7 linked regions of the Homo sapiens genome follow. The protein of the gene in region 3 interacts with the protein of the main gene of each other region in a pairwise test. Each region holds a gene or a part of one and is shown on either strand. Other genes may lie near its edges. The genes, in order: ZNF683, CHIC2, ZNF330, ZNF460, ZNF23, NR4A3 and ZNF250.

Region 1 (3,500 bases), on a different chromosome or scaffold from region 3:
GCTGGGACTACTACAGACACATGCCACAAACACCCAGCTAATTTTCTTTCTTTCTTTCTTTCTTTTTTTTGAAACAGAGTTTCGCTTTTGTTGCCCAGGCTGGAGTGCAATGGCATGATCTCGGCTCACCGCAATCTCTGCCTCCCGGGTTCAAGTGAATCTTCTGCCTCAGCCTCCCAAGTAGCTGGGATTACAGGCATGTGCCACCATGCCCAGCTAATTTTGCCTTTTTAGTAGAGACGGGGTTTCTCCATGTTGGTCAGGCTGGTCTTGAACTCCCAACCTCAGGTGATCTTCCCGCCTCGGCCTCCCAAAGTGCTGGGATTACAGGCGTGAGCCACCGTGCCCAGCCTTAATTTTCTTATTGTTTTGTAGAGATGGGATTTTGCTTTGTTGCCCAGGCTGGTCTCAAATTCCTAGGCTTAAGCAATCCTCCTGCCTCAGCCTCCCAAAGCACTGGGATTATAGGCATGAGCCACTGCACCTGGCTGACAGTTTATTTTTTAACAGGTTTTTTATTTTAGTACTCTTTATCTAGAATAGCACTGTTTGGTAGAACTCCCTGCAATAATGGGAACATTCTATACCTGTGCTGTCCAATACTATACCTGCTGAGCACTGTAAATGTGACTGGTGCAACTGAGAACTTCATTTTTTATTAGAATCATTGTAATTAATGTAAATCTAGTCATGCATCCAGTGGCTGCCATTTCGGACATAGCAGATCTAGCCTCACCCTTATGTGATCTTATCTGTGCCCATGGCACCTGGATTTATGTCTCCAGTTCAGACCTCTCCTTTAAACTCCAACCCAGTTTATCCATCTGCCCACTTGGCTTCTCAACCTGGGTGTCTAATAGGGACCTTGAACTGCTTTCTCCCCCTGAAATTGTTCAGCACTACAGAAATGCTAGCAGGCTCGCAGGCTGGAGGTCTTTCTCAGCCCCGAGCAGGGCAGGTTTGATGGCGGACAGAACTTCACCCCAGACTGTGGGGATCTGACCGCCTTCCTTTTCCTGCTTAGAGCACGAGCCACCAGGGCTGCAGGCCAGCTCCACCGATGACAAGAAATTCACAGTCAAGTACCCACAGAACAAGGACAAGCTGGGAAAACAGCCAGAAAGAGCTGGCGAGGGGGCCCCCTGCCCAGCCTTCTCCTCTCATAACAGCTCTTCCCCACCACCGCTGCAGAACAGAAAGAGCCCCAGCCCCTTGGCTTTCTGCCCCTGTCCCCCTGTCAACTCCATCTCCAAGGAGCTCCCATTTCTCCTCCACGCCTTCTACCCTGGATACCCACTTCTCCTGCCTCCACCCCACCTGTTCACCTATGGGGCCCTACCTTCTGACCAATGTCCCCACCTCCTCATGCTGCCCCAAGACCCCTCCTACCCCACCATGGCTATGCCTAGCCTGCTGATGATGGTCAATGAGCTGGGGCACCCCAGCGCTCGGTGGGAGACCCTGCTTCCCTACCCAGGGGCCTTCCAAGCCTCTGGCCAAGCTCTGCCTTCCCAGGCCCGAAATCCAGGTGCTGGAGCTGCCCCAACCGACTCCCCAGGCCTGGAGCGTGGTGGCATGGCATCTCCAGCAAAGCGGGTCCCATTGAGTTCCCAGACAGGCACCGCAGCCTTGCCTTACCCGCTGAAAAAGAAGAATGGCAAAATCCTGTACGAGTGCAACATATGTGGCAAGAGCTTTGGGCAGCTCTCCAATCTCAAGGTATCTGCCTCCTGGGCTCTGCTTCTCCCCTCAACATCCTTCAGGGCCCCCCATGCACCCGAGTCTGCTTCTAGAAGCAAGGACCTCAAAGCTAGAAGGCACTCCTGGGCAACCTCTAGGGCCAAGTGACCTTGGATGGTTCATTTGGGTGGAGATATCGGATAAGACGGCCACCAAAGTCCTCGCCACCCTAGAGGACTGCCTATGAGATCGTCTCATTTAGGTTAAAATGGGGAGACTGAGGCTTTTAATGGGCAGCGTTTGCCTAAGATTACCCCGATTTAACGGTAGTGTTAGGTTTAGTCTCTCAACATTTGCTCTGGGCAAAGAAAGCCCTTACCTGGACAACCATCCTTTCTGGACTCCAAGTTAAGCTTCTTATTTATTTTTTTGGGCAGTCAGATGAGGGAATGGGTAGATTTTGGTGAGTCTAGACCACAGTCCGATGACCAACCTTTTTCAAGTGGGATCCCACAAATCTGCGCGACCGCCGATGCGATTGGCCTCACCATCCGCATCGCCCAGCAGGGGGCGCCCAGGGAGCGCATCTCAGTGCGTTAGCAAAGGGCGGAAACTGTGCGCTCTCTGGCTAGTTCTGAAGTTGAAGGCACATTGTGGTTATGGGGAGAAGCCCTGCTGGATCCTGCAGGGCAGGAGTTCTTAAACTTTCATGAGCCTCAGACCACCTGGAGAGCTAGTAAACATGCAGATTCCTAGAGTTTTTGTGATCCTCCCACCTCAGCCTCCAGAGTAGCTCCCAGCCCCAGAGTTATCTTTTTTTTTTTTTTTTTTTTCCATATGGAGTCTCATTCTGTCGCCCACGCTGGTCTCAAACTCCTGGGCTTAAGGGATTCTCCCACTTCATCCTCCCCGGTAGCTGGGACGAAGGGTAAACACCACCACTCCTCGTTAACTTTCAAATTTTTTGTGCATACGGGGTCCCAATGTGTTTCTCAGGCTGGTATTGAACTCCTGGGCTCCATTGATCCTCCCTCCTCGGCCTCCCAAAATGCTGGGATTACAGCCACGAGAGTGTGCCCAGCCCTCCCAGAGTTTTTGATTCAGCAGGTCTGGGGCCGGACTTGAGAACCTGCATTTCTAACATGCTCCCAAAGTGTGATACCAGCACTGCTGGTCTGTGAACCACATTTTGAATAGCAGTGTTCCACAATATACCTGGGGTACCTCTTACCCCTGGCCTTCTGACCACTGCCATCTCCCCTACAGGGCAGCAGAAAGAGTAGAGTATCCTGGGGATGATGGGCCCTGAGGGAGATGACGGGGAGGGAGAGAGAAGTGGGCAGAGATTTGGAGAGGACCTCAGGCCCTGCTAGGGGTGCTGGGCAGTTGGCAGCATTTATCCCGCATCTGACTCAGGTCCACCTGCGTGTGCACAGTGGAGAGCGTCCATTCCAGTGTGCCTTGTGCCAGAAGAGCTTCACTCAACTTGCCCACCTGCAGAAGCACCACCTGGTGCACACTGGGGAGCGGCCCCACAAGTGCTCGGTGAGATCCTTCTCCCCCTACTATGTACTCCTATAGGCTGGAGAGGAGTTTTAGGCCCTTGGAGGGCTGGCACCTGCAGCCTCCATTCCCCAGTCCTCCTGAGCAAGTGGAGATGGGAAGGGGGAGTGAAAATTGAAAATGACTCCTCTCAGCCTGGAATGGGTAATACTGAAGGTCACTCCAAAGGCCTGCAGGAGGGAGAGAACAATGAAGTTGGAGGTCATGGAGAGTGTATGTATACCCATTATCTACCTCCCTGAGTTATTGGAGGAGTT
Region 2 (3,500 bases), about 87 Mb from region 3:
GCAGAGAGAGAATCCCTATCTTTCATAATTCATAACCAGTATAACCTAAACAAGTTAATATTCTCTCACTAGCCTAGATCGTAAACTTGATGAAATTCTGTTTAAGATTAGCACCTATTAAGACACTGCTCAGTACTAGAGGATATTTTTGATTCACAAAATTTTAGCAATTTTTTTTAGCGTATTTCTATCTAAAAATATTACTTTTAACAAATAGCACATGATACTTCAGTGGGTGTTTTAATATATCTAGATTATTTAAAAGTTAATGTTCATATTAAAATTTTAAAAGGTGCTTTAATGTACAGGAAAGGAATTTGTTTAAAAATCCTTTTGAGAAATCATATTCTAGTTTTTTTTTGTTTTTTGGTGAATCTAGGCTTTTCACGTAGCATAATACTGTGATATAATTATTTAATTTTCTGCACATCACTGGAATATAAAATTTCATATTAATCCAGAATGAGCAGAAGTGAATAATATAATTTCCTCTTAAGTTCTCTTATGTTAAAATAATTCATTTTAAATTATATATGGTTTCTCCCTAATAACTTACAGCTAAAGACATTGTTTTACTTAACAAATTCAATTTACACAGATGTCTAAAGATGAATAGCATTCTTATTTGAAAAATATAAGTTAAAAACAAGATTATGAATATATTCAAAACATTTTAGTTAAAGGTTAATTAATGCATTATAGATTTAAGAGTTTAAAATTTAAGTAGGGAATTGAACATTTGAAATTTTGCTTTCCCATTTTGTGATGGTATGAATAAATCCAATTCAAATACATTTTAATTATAGGTTTAAATAGGTGAACTTTTATAAATAGTTATTAGTGAGTATTCTGTACATTTTATTAGCATATCATAGCATATTTTTGTTCTAAAGACTGATAATACTATTTTATTGGGAAATATTAAGATAAACTTTGTTACAGTTTCTACACTTAACATTTTTTTTCTTTAGCTCTCAATACTCTAAAATTTATGAGATTTCCATTGGTTTTATTAGTAATGTCTAGAAAACCACTTCTTTGTAAAACCATGTTTTCAAACAATTGATTGTGATTAAATGAGTCATTGGGAATTAGGAAACTCTTAAGTAACCAGTGGTGGCAAAGTAGGAGATTAATACCTTAAAGATTTTCTAAATGGCTCTTTGCTGTCCTGGAAGACTAATTTATATCTAATGGCATTTAATTTGTTTATAGGGAATAATATTAATAATTTATTCCTAAGAAAGTTACAGTATTTAGGAAAAATTACAAAAATACATAATAATTCAAATTTGAATTTTCAGGAAATCTTAGTTTTCTATTGCAGTAATTGAGTTTGTCTAGGTGTATGTGTGCTTTGCTGTTATAAGCTTACTTTAGATGCTTCTTTGGAAGGTATGTCTTATTTGGGTATGTCTTATCTAATATTGCTGATTAATCATTACCATATTAGCCATTTTATGAATTACTGAGGCCCTTTTAGTTCTCTTTCCGTTTTCATGTTTTTCCTATTTTCACAATTCTACCAAAAATCTAAAAGGGACCAAAGGCAATATAAATAGAAGCCAAAATTTCTATTCTTATGTTACTACTACTTGTTGCTCAACTTAAGTCTGTTTAATACCTATTCAGTAATTGAAATGATATTTTTTAAATCTCCTGTTAATTTTTACTTTCACAAAGCTGAATGGCTGTATTAAAACTAGTTCACCAATGAGAAAAATATAACCACTAAGGTGTGGAAATGAAGAAATGTGTGTTTTGTTTTTGTTTTTGTTTTTGTTTTTTTAAAGAAAAAGGGTTATTTAAAGTGAGCTGAGGGAGATGGGTGGGATCCAGATGCTTGGAGCTGTCTACTTCCAGACCAGGTTAGTAACATGACGCCATTCACACAAAAAAGTTGTTTTTCCTGCATATTGTGAGTTGGTGGTCTTGGTCCTTTTAATTAAAGATAAGAATACTTGATAAAATTACATTTCTTGTTGATCATCTTTTGCAGAAAGACGGAGAATTACATTGGTAAAGAACCGCTAACCTGTCCCCTCACCCCCAGGGTGTGAGCAGTGAAAAGGATTAAGGCCCACTGTAGGGAAGCTTACACTAAAGCCTGCACTGCCCCTTCCCCTGTTCTTTCAGCTAAATAGATTTTTAGTTCCCATGACTATCAATCTGGTGCTTTTCACAAGCACTAAATTCTCTTAAAGAAAATTAAAGATGACTTATTTTTTTAGAAACTGGCCTGGAATACTGAAAGATGGTGTTTTTTGGTACTTTGTTTCATGTTGACAGATCCCATACATATTTTTTTCTGATGCATGTTAATTTGCTTCAGCTTGTTTTGAATTTGGAGTTGAAATAAACATTTAAAAACCAAGGACAGGTTGTTATATGATTAGATTTGCTTGTCCACAGTTAGCAAGTGTAGAGTTCGACACTGTTGAATCTTACATTTCATTAGAAATAGCTACCTGACAGCCTTGTGGACATAAACTCTTTAACTTTTATCTAGATGACTACAATTATAAAGTGCTTTCTTTTAAAAGCTTTTAAGTAGCTTTTATAAATGCTGAAGTGTCATTTTTTTTAGTATCTGCCAAATTGGTATTGTATTTAATCTTGAAAATATATTTTGATTTTCTTAACTAACAATAATTGCATAGTATTAAACATTCTCAGTAGCTCAACCTTTTTTTTTTCTATTTAATTTGAGCTTTTGTTGTTACTAACAAATAATTTGTGGCACAGTTTCTTTCCTTTTTTTTTTAAATGACTGCTAGAATCTATATACTTGTCACCTTAGTGTGCTAGAAATGTTCCACTCAAATCAAGGGTTCCTTTCTGGTTTTGTATGTTCTCACCTGCTCCTCACTGTAAATCATTGAGATGTCAAGTGCAATGATTAATTAAGCTGCACGTGCAAGTGCTTTTTTTTTCACCTGTCAAGCAGGAAAGAAGTCTTATAGCAAAATTAGATGGTGCTAATTCACAGCTTTTACTTCAGACTGTGAAGTGTGTAGAAATATTTTATATTTATATGCTTATTCAGAATGTGGCATATCAGGGCTTGTTTGTTTTATAATTCTTAAATATTGTAAGATACAATTATTATACCAAGCCCTATCATTAAACTCCTAATTATAAACAGAGAAGAAATTCAGAATTCCTACTTAAATATTTTGGAATTCAAGATTTATACTTTGTAATTATCTTTTATTCAAATACTAGTAGTTGATTTAAGTTAAAGTAAATATTTTTAAGTTTTAAAATTGTGTGTATGTATGTGTCTATATATCATAATGAGATCTATTCTTATTATAGCATGGGTTTAAACTTCTGATGAAATGATGGTGGTAACTACATTTTTTTCTTTAAGTAATAAGTATTTGCAGAATGTAGTATTAAGCTTTTGGGTACTATTTTATACATTAATATAAAACAGTGGGCTTGGAAAACTTGTTCTGCTCTAGTTCTTTCATCATCCACCCACCCCCAAAATCATC
Region 3 (3,500 bases):
CATGGAGAAGAGAGAATATAAGACATATTTGGAGAATGGCTGACCATTAGTGACTTGAGTCTAAAAAGAATAGGCCAAGAAGGTTTGGAAAGTGATTAGGGGCCAGATTGTGGAGAGCTTTTAAAACCATGTTTAGGAATCTGGATTTTCTGTGAACTTTATTATTTTGTATTCTCTTTGGAACGGTGCCTTAGATAAATGCATTATTTTAAGGGTCACCCACTTCATTTGGAATAATATGTGCTTAACGTTTCATAAGGCTTAGAATGTACTTAACTATCAAAAGGATAGTTCTTGTGTTCATTCTGTGGTATTTTATTCCTTACAAACAATTGAAAAAGAAACTACCAATGTATTTAGCCTCCTTTGTGATAATGCCACTTCTTCAGGGAATCATATACCCGGAGTATCACTCTCGCATACCTTTGTTATTTTAAGCATGGGTAGGTGCTTGTATACATGGGTGGAGTTGGGGCTTTGGTGTAGTGTCACTTAAATTTTAACCTGAAAAGCAGGTTATTCTTTGTAATACAAGTAAATTTGCAGTTTTCAGTCAGCAGAAAAATTAATGTGATATTTTTATATGTTACAGGAATGTGACAAGTGTCAGAGGTAAATTTTATTTCTTTTTCTATCTACCTTTAATAAAATTGTCCCTCTGACTTTTTATCTGACATTGACCATAATTTAAAATTTTATTTTACATGACAAGGCGGCAGAAGAATAGAGCATTTTGCTACTTTTGTAATTCTGTACAGAAGTTACCAATTTGTGCACAGTGTGGTAAGTTTGTAATAATTAAGGACATATGCTTTTTATCAACTGGTAGTTCAACAATTTGAACTTGGGTGGGTTTGTTGCTATTGGTTACAGTGCTTACAATTGTTGATAATATTATGCCTTACCATTAACAAAATAACAAAACATGTTATTTTGCCTACCAAAAAACTATCAAGCCTTGGTTTTGTCTCTTTGATGTAATGCTGGAAAATAATTAAGGTACAATTTAGATACAGGTTACCAATAAGTGTTTTTAAACAGTGAAAGATCAGATTTCAGACATAACATTTGGTGATCCTGAACTTTTAGTTATACTACCTTAGTCTTGTCAGTATCTGTTTGTTTACTTATCTACATTTTGATTCCTGCTGATATTACCTGCAGTGTGTTAGACCATTGGGAATAATTTTATTCCACATTTACCTGGTACTTATTTTGTGATCAGTAGTTTTTGTGTTTGATGCTTACCATATGATTCATGAGTTTCCTCACATGTATTCCCAGGTGATTTAAATAGAGTTCTTAAGTCATGTGCCCGGTTCTTAAGTATAGGTGGAGACTTGTACCCCAAAATGATTATACAAAATAAAACTAAATGTTAGCAAGATGGGTGTTTCCCAAATAGTCTTCCACAGACTTCCTGAAATATTAATGGATATTTCTTGAAAAATATATATCGATATACATTTGAGAAATACTGCATGCATCCTCCTTTCATTCTCATCTGGGAGATTTCTATTATATATTTATATGTTAGAAGTTCTGAAGACTTGCAACAAAGAAACCCAATTAACTTTATTACTCTAGATTTACATCCCCCCCCAACTTTTGATGAACAAGTATTGCTTTTATTTATGAGATAATAATAATAATTTCAGGTAGAACAATTTGGGGTATGCTCATTTAAGTGTGTTTATATGTAATAATATTCCAGAAAGTTAGTAGTGTTTAGGGCTATATCCCTGAATATTTCTAATGTAGTTCTAGCTTTCAAAGAAGATCTTTTCAATTCCACAATTAATGAAAAAGAGAAAACTGGCCTATATGGAACACTCATATGGTAGTTTTCATAGCCTTGTTTTGCAAAAAGTAATGAATGTAGAGTGAGGAAACAGAGTTTGTGGAAGATTAATAGGTAAGTTCTTGCTAGGACTTACCCCTATTTTCAGTGTCTCTGGGCTTAAATTTTGTAGTGTTGTTAGATGGATACATTTCTCATTTACTGATTCTTAGTGTTGGACATGGAACAGTTGGGTAGCTGCTGCCTCTCATTTCCAGTTTCTCTTCCCATTTCCTACTAACTTTGTTCCTTAGGAAATCAAGATAACGGAAAATTGTTTCTTTTGTGTTCCATTTTGTGGAGTCTCAGATGGATGATTAATGTCATCATTAACTCTCACATAATATCTGATAAGCAAATTTCCTGATAGTGTTTTGAGTTGGTAATTTAATTTGCTTCTAGATCAGAGGTTTAGTGGCTGTGTGGTGATTTGTAGCTGTATCACCGTATTGTTTATTGTGCTTATTTGGGCACTATTTCAAAATTTTGTTGGGAAAATGTTTAACTGGGGGCTTCGTTGTAAATTTTTATGTTTGGATAAAATTACATTAACTCGATAAGTTACATAATCATTATTTGGTTTGGTTTGAGGTATTATTCTGTGGAAAGAAATAACTTCAAACCACAGTTTTTATTGTGAATTATAAAATGTAAAATTTGTTATAAAAAGCATTCCTTTAAAAATTGTTTTGAATAATCTGAAGATTGATAAGTTTTTAAACTGTTAAAATGATCATTAGATTACAAAGCATAACCTGCAATTTCTGATTTAGTACAAATTAGCATATATATTGTATAGTTCATTTTACAGATTTATTAGTAAATGTATAATCTGAAAAGTCTGATTCGAGTAATGAAGTCTCAGTTATATCCATTTTCTCTTTCTAGTTATGTAAGCAGTAAATACTGATTCAATTTCATTAGTTTTTAAATTATTTCCTCAGGAACTTGGGCTGGATAAAAGGAGGAATTCGTGAGTACTGGTATGTATTCCTTTGCAAGACTAACAGTGCAAATGTTTTTCTTCATTAGGGAAAACAAAGTGCATGATGAAGTCTTCAGACTGTGTCATAAAGCATGCTGGTGTATACAGTACTGGCCTTGCAATGGTGGTAAGCTTCTTATTATCTCTTAGACTAGTACGTTTTCAAGGATAAGAAAATGTCATTCTGATCAGTGGTTATTTTTTTCTAAATATCATTGCTTTGTCCCTTGTTTCAATCAATCTGTAGTTATCTGGATTATGAGTGGCATGCTTTTTGTATGATTTTCCCTTAGTACCCACTTGTTTCTAGCTGCTTCTTTCTTTCTTATTAGGGAACATACAAGGCATGGAAACTTTTCATGCTGATCTAAACAGAATTTCATTTCTCAGTGGTACCTTTTTTTTTTTAAATTTTATTATTATTATTATACTTTAAGTTTTAGGGTACATGTGCACAACATGCAGGTTTGTTACATATGTATACATGTGCCATGTTGGTGTGGTGCACCCATTAACTCGTCATTTAGCATTAGGTATATCTCCTAATGCTATCCCTCCCCCATCCCCCCACCCCACAACAGTCCCCGGTTTGTGGTGTGTGATGTTCCCCTTCCTGTGTCCATGTGTTCTCATTGTTCAGTTCCCACCTATGAGTGAGAACATGCGGTGTTTGGT
Region 4 (3,500 bases), on a different chromosome or scaffold from region 3:
ACTTTTTTTTTTTTTTTTTTTTGAGACAGAGTCTCCTTCTTCGCCCAGACTGGAGTGCAGTGGCACGATCTCGGCTCACTGCAACCTCTGCCTCCTGAGTTCAAGCGATTCGCCTGCCTCAGCCTCCCGAGTAGCTGGGATTACAGGTGTGTACCGCCACGCCTGGCTAATTGTTTTGTATTTTTAGTAGAGACGGGGTTTCGCCATGTTGGCCAGGCTGGTCTCAAACTCCTGACCTCAGGAGATCCACCCGCCTCAGCCTCCCAAAGTGCTGGGATTACAGGTGTGAGCCACCACTCCTGGCCTGGACTTCTTAGGATTTTTGCACAACACAGCATATGAGTTATAGCTTATTCAAAAAGTAAAAAAAGATGGAGTCTTATTATGATGCCAAGCCTAGTCTCGAACTCCTGGCCTGAAGCAATCCTCCCATCTCAGCCTCCGGAGTAGCTGGGATTAGAGGCATCTGGCTTCCATTTTAGTGTTATTAATTGACTTGACTGCATTATTGTTGTATCTCAGAGAATATGGAAGCCCAAGGAGAGAGACAGAGAGGGAATGGCCAGTAAGTGGAGCAGTCAGAACACACATAACATTTATTGATAAAGCTGTCTTACATGGTGCAGTTCATGGTGCCCCATAGCAATTACAATAGTAACATCAAACACCACTGATCGCAGACCACCACAGTAGATATAATATTAATAAAAATATTTGAAATACTGCAAGAATTACCAAAACGTGACACAGACAAAAAGTGAGCACATGCTGTTGGAAAAATGGTGCGGGACAGACTTGCTCAATTCAGGGTTGCCACAAACATTCAACTTCTAAAAATACAGTAACTGCAAGGTGCAGTAAAGCAAAGTACAATGAAACAAACGTATGCCTTTTTTGGCACATATTGTCCCATTTTACCCATGAGAAAATTGAGGCACTTTTCTGCACTGGCATGGGTATAAAGAAATAAAAAATTCTAAAAAGAAAATTAAGGCACAGAGGAGTTCAGTACTTTGCCCAGGAACACACAGCTGACAAAAAGTAGAGCTGGAATTGGACTCTGAGGCATCAGACCTTGGTCTCCCAAGTGCTGTGCTCAGAGGAAATGAAGAACACCCCCGTGTGGTGCCAGGAGTCTCAAAACAAGGAGGCCATAAAGAATGGGAGACATGAGTGGAAGAACTCAATCCTAAGGGAACAGGGCAGCAGAGTGAGGGGTAGACGTGGTGACTCCACGCTTCGACATTTCATGAACCACTGAAAAATAAAAAACTGGGAGGGAACTCCAAATAGCGATTTGGCCACATATAGACGTTTGCACAAACATCAAAATCAACACATCACAAAAGAAAGAACCTTTACCAAGAAAAAAAATGCAACGAACAGCATCTCACAATGAAGGTTTATCTCTTAAACTGAATTAATTAAGTTTCTGAGGTGTTCATTGCAATGGCCCTATTATCCTTACTCACTGACGATGGGGATGCTGGGAGAATTAAGTGAGAAGAGTATCAACAGAGAGACAACAAAAATATGCAGGAAGTAGTAGTGCCAAGGAATGTGTGAGCCTCAGAGAACAAGACTAGACGGTCACTTCGTTCCACACAATAGCTGAGCCAGAAAAAGCCATTATAAAAAGACAGTGACAGGAGCAGACCCATAAAGGGAAGCCAGCACCAGACAACCAGTATTAGTGCCACAGGGGGGCCTGGCTGCAAATCCTGCCTTTGGGTTCTACAAAACATCCCATTTCCTGGTAACACATCCCTCTCCTTTGGCTGTGACCAAAAGCAAACTATATTTCGTAGCCAACCCTTTCTAAGTAAGACACAAAGAGATCAGGAAGAATAAGGTGAGTCAAAAAAATGAGGCTGGGCGTGGTAGCTCATGCCTGTAATCCCAGCACTTTGAGAGGCTGAGGTGGGTGGATCACTTGAGGTCGGGAGTTTGAGAACAGCCTGACCAACATGGAGAAACCCCTTCTCTACTAAAAATACAAAATTAGCTGGGCATGGGAGCACATGCCTGTAATCCCAGCTACTCTGGAGGCTGAGGCAGGAGAATCACTTGAATCGGGGAGACGGAGGTTGTGGTGAGCCAAGGTCACGCCATTTCACTCCAGCCTGGGCAACAAGAGCGAAACTCTGTCTCCAAAAAAAAAAAAAAAAAAATAGAGTAAAGCTTTGGGAAACAGGAGGGCTGGCTCCCAAGACCTATTCCACTAGCCAGGCCTGGAGCCAGGATGAAGGCTAGAATGAAGCTGCTTTCTGGTGCCCCTGATTTTGGAGAGGAGAGGACAGGCCTTACCCAGTGCGACCAGAAGCCCACAGGTCTCCAGCATCACCTCCACGTACAAGGCCCTCTGGGTCACGTCCAACTGCCCCCACTCCTCCTGGGTAAATGTCACAGCCACATCCTCGAAGGTCACAGACTCCTGAAAAGTCAAAAAGAACCAGTAATGTTTCCTTTGCAACTGTGGAATAGGATTAGAACCTGTCACTCCAGCACTGCAAAAGATGCACAGAGAATCAAAGGCCAAATCACCAAGCACCTCCAAAGGGCCAAGATCTGTGCTAGGATCAAGGGGAATGTGGACACTGCCTTGCATGGATTACAGCAGTGAAGAGGAGACAGAAGCGGCTGAGGCAGGAGAACTGCTTGAACCTGGGAGGCGGAGATTGCAGTGAGCTGAGATCGTGCCACTGCACTCCAGCCTGGCAACAGAGCAAGACTCTGTCTCAAAAAAAAATAAATAAATAAATAAAAAATAAATAAATAAATAAATAAATAAAGCCTCCTAGGCAGGAAGCCACTTGAACTTAACACAGAAATAAGGTTAGGACAATCCCAAGTGGACTGAGAGGCACAGACAGTAAGTGCTCTGACATATTAGAGGAATGGGAAATAATAATAATAAAAACATCACCACCAGCAACAATAACAGGAACAGTATCTGAGTCTTACCAATCCTCCCTGTGTGCCTGCCTCATGCTGACAGGTTTACATGCCATGGTAAAGTGACTGAAACTCCCCAGCTCAGGAGCCAGACTCCTGAGGTTTAAAACCAAATTCCTGAAATCAACGTGTGCCTGCTATGTGACCTTGGGGACCTCATTTCATTTCGCCGAGCCTCCATTTCCAGGTCAATATAACCGTGTTTCCCACTTCATCAAGAATAGTCAAGGCTGGGCACGGTGGTTCATGCCTGTAATCCCAGCACTCTGGGAGGCTGAGGCACATGAATTACCTGAGGTCAGGAATTCGAGACAAGCCTGGCCAACATGGTGAGACCCCATCTCTACTAAAAATACAAAAATTAGCCAGGTGTGGTGGCACAAGCCTGCAATCCCAGCTACTAGGGAGGCTGAGGCAGGAGAATCGCTTGAACCTGGGAGGCAGAGGTTGCAGTAAGCCAAGACTGTGTCACTGTACTCCAGAACAGAGCGAGCCTCTGTCTCAAAAAAAAAAAAAAAAAAAAAAAAGAATAGTCAAAAGAACTA
Region 5 (2,576 bases), on a different chromosome or scaffold from region 3:
AGGAGTGTTTTTTTAGTCAAAGTTCAAACTCATATCAGTGTCATACCATCACTGGAGAGCAGCCCTCTGGGTGTACAGGATTGGGGAAATCCATCAGCTTTGATACAAAACTCGTGAAGCATGAAATAATTAATTCTGAGGAAAGACCTTTCAAATGTGAAGAATTAGTAGAGCCCTTTAGGTGTGACTCTCAACTTATTCAACATCAAGAGAACAACACTGAGGAAAAGCCTTATCAGTGTTCGGAGTGTGGCAAAGCTTTCAGCATTAATGAGAAATTAATTTGGCATCAGAGACTTCACAGTGGGGAGAAACCCTTCAAATGTGTGGAGTGTGGGAAAAGCTTCAGCTACAGTTCCCATTATATCACACATCAGACAATCCACAGTGGGGAGAAGCCCTATCAGTGTAAGATGTGTGGGAAGGCCTTCAGTGTTAATGGAAGCCTAAGTAGGCATCAGAGAATCCATACGGGAGAGAAGCCCTATCAGTGCAAGGAATGTGGAAATGGCTTCAGCTGTAGTTCTGCATATATTACACATCAGAGAGTCCACACTGGAGAGAAACCTTACGAGTGTAATGACTGTGGGAAAGCGTTCAATGTTAATGCAAAATTAATTCAACATCAGAGAATCCATACTGGAGAGAAACCTTATGAATGTAATGAATGTGGAAAAGGCTTCAGGTGCAGCTCCCAGCTTAGGCAGCATCAGAGCATCCACACAGGAGAAAAGCCCTATCAGTGTAAAGAGTGTGGAAAAGGCTTCAATAATAATACAAAACTCATTCAGCATCAGAGAATCCACACAGGTGAGAAACCCTATGAATGCACTGAATGTGGAAAAGCCTTCAGTGTCAAAGGGAAGTTAATCCAACACCAGAGAATTCACACAGGCGAGAAACCCTATGAGTGTAATGAATGCGGGAAAGCCTTCAGATGTAACTCCCAATTTCGGCAGCATCTGAGAATTCACACTGGGGAGAAGCCCTATGAGTGTAATGAGTGTGGAAAGGCCTTCAGCGTTAATGGGAAACTAATGCGGCATCAGAGAATTCACACTGGGGAGAAACCTTTTGAATGTAATGAGTGTGGGAGATGCTTTACTTCTAAAAGAAACCTACTTGATCATCACCGAATCCATACTGGAGAAAAGCCCTATCAATGTAAGGAATGTGGGAAAGCCTTCAGTATCAATGCCAAACTAACTAGGCATCAGAGGATACATACTGGGGAGAAACCTTTCAAATGTATGGAATGTGAGAAAGCATTCAGCTGTAGTTCTAACTATATTGTGCACCAGAGAATCCATACAGGAGAGAAACCCTTTCAGTGTAAGGAGTGTGGAAAAGCCTTCCATGTTAATGCCCATTTAATTCGGCATCAGAGAAGCCACACTGGGGAGAAACCCTTCAGATGTGTGGAATGTGGCAAAGGCTTCAGCTTTAGTTCTGACTACATTATACATCAGACAGTCCACACTTGGAAGAAACCCTATATGTGTAGTGTGTGTGGGAAAGCATTCAGGTTTAGCTTCCAGCTCAGTCAGCATCAGAGTGTCCATAGTGAAGGAAAATCCTAATAATGAGAAAGATATAGAAAACTCTTAAGGTTAATGCCAAAATGGATCAAGTATCATCAGATTCATCCATTGAAAAACCTCCAAGAGGGCATGAATATGGCAGAGTCTTCATATGGAAACAGTTTTTATTCTATTCAGTTTAAATCAGGAAAGGATGACCAGTTAAAGAGAAACATCCAAAAATAGCTTTGTTTTGTACCAACAGGAATTAGAAAATATAATGAAAAGATTTCGTTCCCAGCAGCATCAAGAAAAGTAGATTTTCTAGAAATAAACAGTTATGGAGGACTTGTATGGAGAAATTTAAGTCTTCACTGAGGGCCACTTTACAAAGGAAATTTGAATAAATGGAGAGAGAGAGAAGCCTTGTTGTTGGATAGGAAAACCCGTACTAAAGATACTCTACCTACATTAATTTATTTGTTTAATTTTTGACAACAAGCATGTATTACTTTTGAAAAGATGAAAAATAAAGATTTATTTAAAAAAGGAAAAAGGTATGAGTACATTTTTAATTTTCATGTAATTGAGAAAACCTTTCTAAGTATTAGATGAAAGCTAGAAACTATCCACAGGGTATGTACTGATAAATTGACTACTCAAAAACTAAATATTCCTGTATGTTTTTGTTTTAAAGTTTAAAAGATAAAGCGCAAAATGGGGAAATACTTTTGTAAAATTTGTGATATAAAAGTGTAGTATTTGGGCATGGTGGATCAGACCTGTAATCTCAGTGCTTTGGGAGGCTGAGACGGGAAGATTGCGTGAGGCCATGAGTTCCAGACCTGTATGGGCAACATAGCAAGATCCCATCGCTACAAAAAATAATAAAAGCCAGGCGTGGTGGTATGTGCCTGCAGTCCTTGCTGCTTGGGAGGCTGAGGCAAGAGGATCACCTGACTCCAGGAATTCGAGGCTGCAGTGAGCTATGACCACCACTGCACTCCAGCCTGGGTGGCAGTGAGACCCTGTCTCTTAAAACATTAATATCTAAAG
Region 6 (3,500 bases), on a different chromosome or scaffold from region 3:
ATTTTTTTTACAATATGGTTACTGTGTCTATGTCAATAGACATTTATGAAATGACCTATTAATAGGAATTTTCACTGAAAATATATGGCTGTCATATATCTTTCTTTGTCTCATTTTTCGTTTGTACCTTGGGGTTTTTTGTTTTCTTCCTTGGATATAATAATGATTTGTAATAACTACTTTTAAGATTTTGCTTTGAAAAATCAGGAATGGACTGTTTATCATATATGGTCTTTAAAGATAAAATAAGCTATACAGGCTGATTAAGTTAGTTTTTTTGCATTAAAACATTATTTCCTATATGTTTTAATTAGAAAAATCCTGATTTTGGTTTTTATGATTTCATCTCTGTTGGGTAACAAAGCCAGTTACTGTGATATTTGACTTACAATAGTGATAGCAAACAAAGTACATCCCAGATAATTTTGATTTTATTTTAATAAGGTCAGCAATAATCAGGGGAGTGGAACAAGTAGAAAATTGTTCCCAAAGGGATATTAAAAGTGGAGATAATCTAATTCTCCAAGGTATGATATGTTGACCTGGTAATTTCAGATATGATTTTATCATTCAGAGTTGGGTGTCTCCTGAGACTTGCTTTAGAACAATCCGAGATGATTTTCATTGTCAGCAGCTAACACTAATAAAATTGTTTTTCCTGCAGGCTAGCGTTTTAGGAAATTAAATTTATCGAATTATACGAATTGCACTGTCGCTTTTCACATTGTAATTAAAATACATCTTGTCAGGTCCTACCTCTTTCCAGAAACTATCAGTTGACTATCTTGTATTATATTTTCTCAGAGAACAGTGCAGAAAAATGCAAAATATGTTTGCCTGGCAAATAAAAACTGCCCAGTAGACAAGAGACGTCGAAACCGATGTCAGTACTGTCGATTTCAGAAGTGTCTCAGTGTTGGAATGGTAAAAGAAGGTATGGATATAATGCTTTTTACCCAGTTTGCTTATACATATTATCAGAAATCAGTGAAAAAAAGCTAATATTTACATTGGGATGGTGAATTTTTCTAGTTCCTTTTTCCTTTCAACATTTTATTTTTATCATATATATCTACATTTTAAAATAACTGAGGACTATTTATTCTAATTTCTCAAAATTAACAGAGGACTTGTATACATACATCTTTGTTCTATTTAAGAAGGAGACTTTTAGGGCTAATTCATTACCAAATGTAAATATCGGTGGCTTTTATGCTGCTTGTTTCAACTCTCATGAAATCATTGTGTGAATATTATTCCAAACTTATTACCACTTTTAAATGGTTGGTCTCATTAATGATTGCTCAACTGTAATGTGTTTTTATTCCTTTTTGCGATTTATGGTCGTTCATTCCATAATCTTTGAAGATTGTTTTCTTTGTCTCTTTTGGCATCAGTTGTCCGTACAGATAGTCTGAAAGGGAGGAGAGGTCGTCTGCCTTCCAAACCAAAGAGCCCATTACAACAGGAACCTTCTCAGCCCTCTCCACCTTCTCCTCCAATCTGCATGATGAATGCCCTTGTCCGAGCTTTAACAGACTCAACACCCAGAGATCTTGATTATTCCAGAGTAAGTTTTATGATTTCCTGCTTTCAAATGAATGATCAGGGTCTCTATTTATGGCTACTAGTAATAAGAGTTGATTGAATGATTTTGTGTCTGGCACCATGTTAGACAGTTTTCATACTTTTTCTATATTTCTCGCTTCATTTAGCAATTCAGTGCATCCATTGCAGCAAATAATTTTTGCCTTATTGAATCTCTAAATGCCTTAACAAGTGACCCTGACAGTGCTGCACCTGTCATACACATTGTTGCAGGATTCCTGGTGGTTGTGCCAATGAAAATCTGCACAGACAAACTACAATTTGTAGATTTATCTCGTGATCTAGACAAAGTGACTACTGTTTTTTTTCATATTGTGTTCAAACCATCTGGGTGAGCCTCAAGTTATTACTAAGCAGTTTATCCAATTGCATCAGCATTGATTGACCTGCTGCTTATTCAGAGGGATTAGACCATTGGTGGAGAGAAGCGAGCTCTGGCTGTGACATCAGTTGTCAGGAGAACTGGGATGGAACGCCACCTCTGCTACTTCCTGCCTGTGTCACCTGGTTCCTGCTTTTGGCTCTCTCCTGCCTACAGTGGAAATGGCTACAATATTTAACCTCAGAGGGGTGTTCTGAACACCAGTCACACAAGAATGATGGTTGTGAAAATGTTTTTAAGACCATAAATGACGATTGGTGTTGTTATAGTTAAGTCAACCAAAACATATCAACATTTTTATTTCATATGGGATATAGTAAAATCCCATCAGTCTGAACCCTGCAAATTCCTCAAAATTTGGATAACACAGAGAAGAACCATGAGAAAGGATTTCCTGAGCAAATGAATAAACAGCTCTGTAAGGCAATTTCTTTAAAGGACTTAGAAAACTAAACTTCTAGCAAAACAGGGTCTCAATGAAGAGGGAAGAGAAGGAAAAAAAATCACAATTATTGAGCAGTTTCTATATGCTAGACATTGTGGTACATTATCTCATTTAATCCTTTAAACCACCATGAATTGTAGGAATCATTATCCCTCCTACTTGAAGGAAAACAAAAACAAAAACAAAAACAAAAAACCTTAGAAACACAGCTTGCACTCAGATAAAGAAATACCAGTCCAGAGGCCCCCAGTCGGTTGATCTGTCTTGGTGGCTACTACCAAACTGCCCTCCCCAGGTCTAATCAGTGTTTCAAGCTTCTGGCTGAATGGCTGGCAAACAGTGTGAGTGTGTCCCTGCTATGTGCCCTTCTCCTTAGGTTGCAGTGTTGATAGAAATGATTAGTGTACCTGCTGTGATCCTCTTTCCCTCTTCCCCACCCTCATTATAGGCTGCGAAGCCTCCTCTCTGCACCTGATAACAAAACGTCATATGAGAAGCATGGTAGATCCTTAGCATCAAAGGTTGAGGACTCTTATTCTGATTATAAGTAGTGGCTCTTGACTACAATCAAGTCTCAAATAATAGTGTAAGAGAATAAAGCAGAATAATAAGACTAAGTTAACAGTTTAGGCTTCTTTGGAATCATGCGGGCCTAGATGAAAATCCCAACACTGTCCTTTACTAGCTAAGTGACCTTGAGCAACTGATTACACCCTTTGATGCCTCAGTTTTCTCCTCTGTGTTGTGGGGTAATAGTAATATCTACTTCCTGGGGTTGTTCGTGAAGATTAATTAACAATTATACTTGTCAAAGCTTTAGCACAGTGCCCTGTATGTTATTTCCTTGGCCAAACTTTCTTACTCTGCCATTTGTTCAATGTCCTAATGAGCATGAACACTACATTAGGTATCATGCAGAACACTCTAAAGATAAGTATTATGATCTCTATTTCACAGATAAGGAAATTTAAACTGGGAGAGGCTAAAGGGCTGACTTGCCCAAGGTCACTGAACTAATATGCAGCAGAGACAGAATTAGGAGCCAAGTATATTAAGAGCCAAGTG
Region 7 (3,500 bases), on a different chromosome or scaffold from region 3:
ATGAGCCACCGCGCCCACCTATATCTGATGTTTTATAGACACTGAGATTATGATGTCCCTTGACTTCTGCCCCCAGCCCTGACACCTATTTTGTCACTCTTAAAGCACCCTGTTTGTTGTGGTGCCCATCTGAGCCAAGCATGTGAGGGGATTGGTTGCTTTGTTATACCACGTTTTTCTGGAGTGATCTACCACCTTTGGTCACCTGGTTGGTTTCTGTATCCCTGTCACAGTATCTTCTTTTTGATGCTCCAGAAGACTGCGAACCCTATCCTGTACAGGACCAAATGTGTCAGGAAAGCTCTTGCCCCGCTCCCCCTTTTTCCCAGCTGTTTGGGTGTGTGTCAGATACCTTTGCTTACCTTGTCCTGTTACGTTCCAGCACCAGCCCCACTACCCCAAGCATCCCCTTCTCACTTGATGACAAGTCTTCCTTCAGCTGCTCAGACCAGATCCCTAGGCCACTGTTGACTCAGTTTGTCCAGAACTGACCACTTCCATGCCTCCCCTTCAAATACCTGGTTGAACCTGGTGCCACATTGGGGCACTAGGGCTGCCTAAGGGTGGGGTGAGGGGAGTCTTATTGTCACCCTGGTGGCCAAGGCTTTCTTAATTGGGAGGGTGTTTGGGGAAGCAGCTTGGCCTGATGCCTGTATCCCCCACATGACTTGCGGACAGTCTGGTACTTGTGTGAGGGCCTCAGGTATAGAACACACAGAGCCTTGGTGAGCTGGTATCCTTGTGTATGGCAGGACCATGGGCCGGGACCAGGGTGCAGCAAGTGCCTTGCACCTGGTGTTCAGAGAGCCCAGTACTAGCTGGGCAGGCCCAGGAACTGTGTGTTCAGGGCCTGGACAGGCTCCTGAACCATAGGGTCAGAGTTCATGGGGGAGGCAAGGCAGACCAAGGCTGCAACAGTAGCAGCTCCTTGCACCTGACCTCAGTGTGCCCCTCAGTGACTCTGAATGAGGCCCAGGGATCCCCTGAGGGCCCCCTAGGAAGTTACGGTCTCAAGGCCATGCCCCTCACTTGCCCCCTCCTCTTCCTCAGCCCCATAGGCTCCTTCAATTTCCGTGATCCTCGGAGTCCCCAGGAGACCAGGTGATGGCAGCAGCCAGACTCCTGCCAGTGCCGGCAGGACCCCAGGTAAGCTGTCCCCAGTGCTTATGCAGTGCCCCCAGCCCGAGCCCTGTGGTTCCTTCCGTGCCCCGTAGAGCTCCTAAGAGCAGCCAGAGCGTCACCACATGCCCTGAACTCCGCGGCCCCTTCCCATCACCCACCTCAGCTCACAGAGCCCCCCACTGCCAACTGCTCATGTCACATGTCACATGCACCCACTCCCCATCACAGACATCAGGATTTGGTTTTACCTGCAGCAGCCCCTGTCGTTCCAGGCCAAGCTGACCTTCGAGGATGTGGCTGTGCTCCTCTCCCAGGATGAATGGGACCGCCTGTGCCCTGCTCAGAGGGGTCTCTACAGAAATGTGATGATGGAAACCTATGGGAATGTAGTCTCATTGGGTAAGCCACCTTAGCAGGCCTCGTCTATGTATCTGCGTATTGGACTGGGGTGGGGGCTTCTCAGGGTACGGGGCCTGGGACAGGCTGGTCCTGGAGGTTTGCTCTCATCACCTCTCTGGGTGCTCAGCTCCAGCAGAAGATCAGTCCTGTCCATTTTCATGTCCCCACAAGTGGCTTGGGCAGGGGGAGGGGGCTCTGTAAATGTTGTGTAAACAAAGACTTCCCTCCCCACGAGCAGGACTTCCAGGATCCAAGCCTGACATAATCTCCCAGCTGGAGCGAGGGGAAGATCCCTGGGTCCTGGACAGGAAGGGGGCTAAGAAGAGCCAGGGCCTGTGGAGTGACTACTCAGGTGAGTGAGGAGAGCTGGCCCCTCCCTCACTGAGGGCTAAACAGGTCCTGAGCAAAGCTGTGGACCTAGTTCATACTGTGCCGCTCACTGGAGTGGCTTCCACCTGGAGTAAAACCTTATCTGGCCTTATCTGGCAAAGGAGTCTATAGACTGGGGGTTGCTGAATCAGGTGGCAGCCCATGGCTGGAAGTGAGCATAGCAGTGAATTTCAACAAGCTGATGTGCAGAGCCATGTAGAGGAAGTTAGGGCATGGCTGCAGTGATTCTGTCCCTGACCAGAGGGACTGGTTAGCCAGATTTGGTCCTAATAGGACATTCAGGTTTTGAGAGTTACCTGATGATTTAGAAAATAACAAAGCATCCTAAATGTGGAAAGGAAGTGTCTCAACCTGACACTTAAGGTGAAGTGCTGAAAGCACACTGTTTCATCTCAGAACAAGACAAAGAAGCCCGCCATCCCCATGTCCATATAATGTTGTACTGGGTATCCCATGTACAAAATAAGGCAAAACCGGCCAGGCGTGGTGGCTCAAGCCTGTAATACCAGCACTTTGGGAGACTGAGGCGGGTGGATCACGAGGTCAGGAGATCAAGACCATCCTGGCTAACACGGTGAAACCCTGTCTCTACTAAAAATACAAAAAATTAGCCGGGCATGGTGGCATGCACCTGTAGTCCCAGCTACTCGGGAGGCTGAGGCCTGTAGTCCCAGCTACTCCCAGATTCATGGCGTGAACCCGGGAGGCAGAGGTTGCAGTGAGCTGAGATCGCTCCACTGCACTCCAGCCTGGGGGACAGAGCATGAGACTCTGTCTCAAAAAAATAAAAATAAAAATAAGGCAAAACCAAAGCTATAAGAATTAGAAAGAAAAAAGCATTGTTTGCAGTTTATGTGATTGTCAACCTGGAAAATGATTGATTAAAATTCACAAGGGAAATTACCAGTTTTGCTGGATACAATTTTTTTTTTTTTTTTTTTTTTTTTGAGACAGTCTTGCTCTGTCGCCCAGGCTGGAATGCAGTGGCATGAGTCTCGGGTCACTGCAAGCTCCGCCGTCTGGGTTCAAGCAATTCTTACGCCTCAGCTTCTCGAATAGCTGGGATTACAGGTCCATGCCCCTATACCCAGCTAATTTTTGTATTTTTAGTAGAGACAGGATTTCACCATGTTGGCCAGGCTAGTCTCGAACTCCTGACCTGAAGTGATCCACCTGCCTCAGCCTCCCAAAGTGCTGGTATTACAGGCATGAGCCACTGCACCTGGCCAGAAATGTTTTATTTATATTTGTCAGCAACCAGCAAAGGTGTAATATTTTAAAAGATAACATTTATAATAGCATCAGGAATATAAAGCATCCAAGAATTAATCTAACAAAAGATGTACAAGACCTTTAGATGGAGAAAATTATAAAAAGAAAGATGGTGCATAGATCCAACCCTGAAGTTCATGTTTGCGGTTGCTTAAGGCAAAGAACCTCTGACTTCAGTAAGGTGACGTCTGAGTCTTAGGAAAACCTCAGTCAGCCTGTCCTGCCATAATGTGCCCCACTTGGGGAGAGTAGGGACAGTTTGGGCAACACCTCCATTGGCTGATCAGCTTCAGCATTTCAGATGTGGTGGTTTTCCC

Evidence for each region.
Region 1: the proteins of ZNF330 (region 3) and ZNF683 interact in binary tests that used the Homo sapiens proteins (3 or more experiments, as listed by UniProt).
Region 2: the proteins of ZNF330 (region 3) and CHIC2 interact in binary tests that used the Homo sapiens proteins (3 or more experiments, as listed by UniProt).
Region 4: the proteins of ZNF330 (region 3) and ZNF460 interact in binary tests that used the Homo sapiens proteins (3 or more experiments, as listed by UniProt).
Region 5: the proteins of ZNF330 (region 3) and ZNF23 interact in binary tests that used the Homo sapiens proteins (3 or more experiments, as listed by UniProt).
Region 6: the proteins of ZNF330 (region 3) and NR4A3 interact in binary tests that used the Homo sapiens proteins (3 or more experiments, as listed by UniProt).
Region 7: the proteins of ZNF330 (region 3) and ZNF250 interact in binary tests that used the Homo sapiens proteins (3 or more experiments, as listed by UniProt).

What each region holds. Positions count from the first base shown.
Region 1 is NC_000001.11:26,362,751-26,366,250, reverse strand, and holds part of ZNF683 (tissue-resident T-cell transcription regulator protein ZNF683), read left to right. Parts: intron 1-1,024; coding exon 1,025-1,719; intron 1,720-3,096; coding exon 3,097-3,225; intron 3,226-3,500. UniProt on the Homo sapiens protein: Transcription factor that mediates a transcriptional program in various innate and adaptive immune tissue-resident lymphocyte T-cell types such as tissue-resident memory T (Trm), natural killer (trNK) and natural killer T (NKT) cells and negatively regulates gene expression of proteins that promote the egress of tissue-resident T-cell populations from non-lymphoid organs.
Region 2 is NC_000004.12:54,016,106-54,019,605, reverse strand, and holds part of CHIC2 (cysteine-rich hydrophobic domain-containing protein 2), read left to right. Parts: intron 1-3,500.
Region 3 is NC_000004.12:141,223,895-141,227,394, forward strand, and holds part of ZNF330 (zinc finger protein 330), read left to right. Parts: intron 1-592; coding exon 593-612; intron 613-712; coding exon 713-783; intron 784-2,872; coding exon 2,873-2,952; intron 2,953-3,500.
Region 4 is NC_000019.10:57,283,485-57,286,984, reverse strand, and holds part of ZNF460 (zinc finger protein 460), read right to left. Parts: intron 2,435-3,500; coding exon 2,308-2,434; intron 1-2,307. UniProt on the Homo sapiens protein: May be involved in transcriptional regulation.
Region 5 is NC_000016.10:71,447,097-71,449,672, reverse strand, and holds the end of ZNF23 (zinc finger protein 23), read left to right. Parts: coding exon 1-1,580; 3' UTR 1,581-2,076; downstream 2,077-2,576. UniProt on the Homo sapiens protein: May be involved in transcriptional regulation. May have a role in embryonic development.
Region 6 is NC_000009.12:99,831,885-99,835,384, forward strand, and holds part of NR4A3 (nuclear receptor subfamily 4 group A member 3), read left to right. Parts: intron 1-804; coding exon 805-934; intron 935-1,397; coding exon 1,398-1,570; coding exon of another isoform or gene 1,571-1,648; exon of another isoform or gene 1,649-2,417; intron 2,418-3,500. UniProt on the Homo sapiens protein: Transcriptional activator that binds to regulatory elements in promoter regions in a cell- and response element (target)-specific manner.
Region 7 is NC_000008.11:144,887,954-144,891,453, reverse strand, and holds part of ZNF250 (zinc finger protein 250), read left to right. Parts: intron 1-1,050; 5' UTR 1,051-1,104; coding exon 1,105-1,146; intron 1,147-1,379; coding exon of another isoform or gene 1,380-1,394; coding exon 1,395-1,521; intron 1,522-1,759; coding exon 1,760-1,873; intron 1,874-3,500. UniProt on the Homo sapiens protein: May be involved in transcriptional regulation.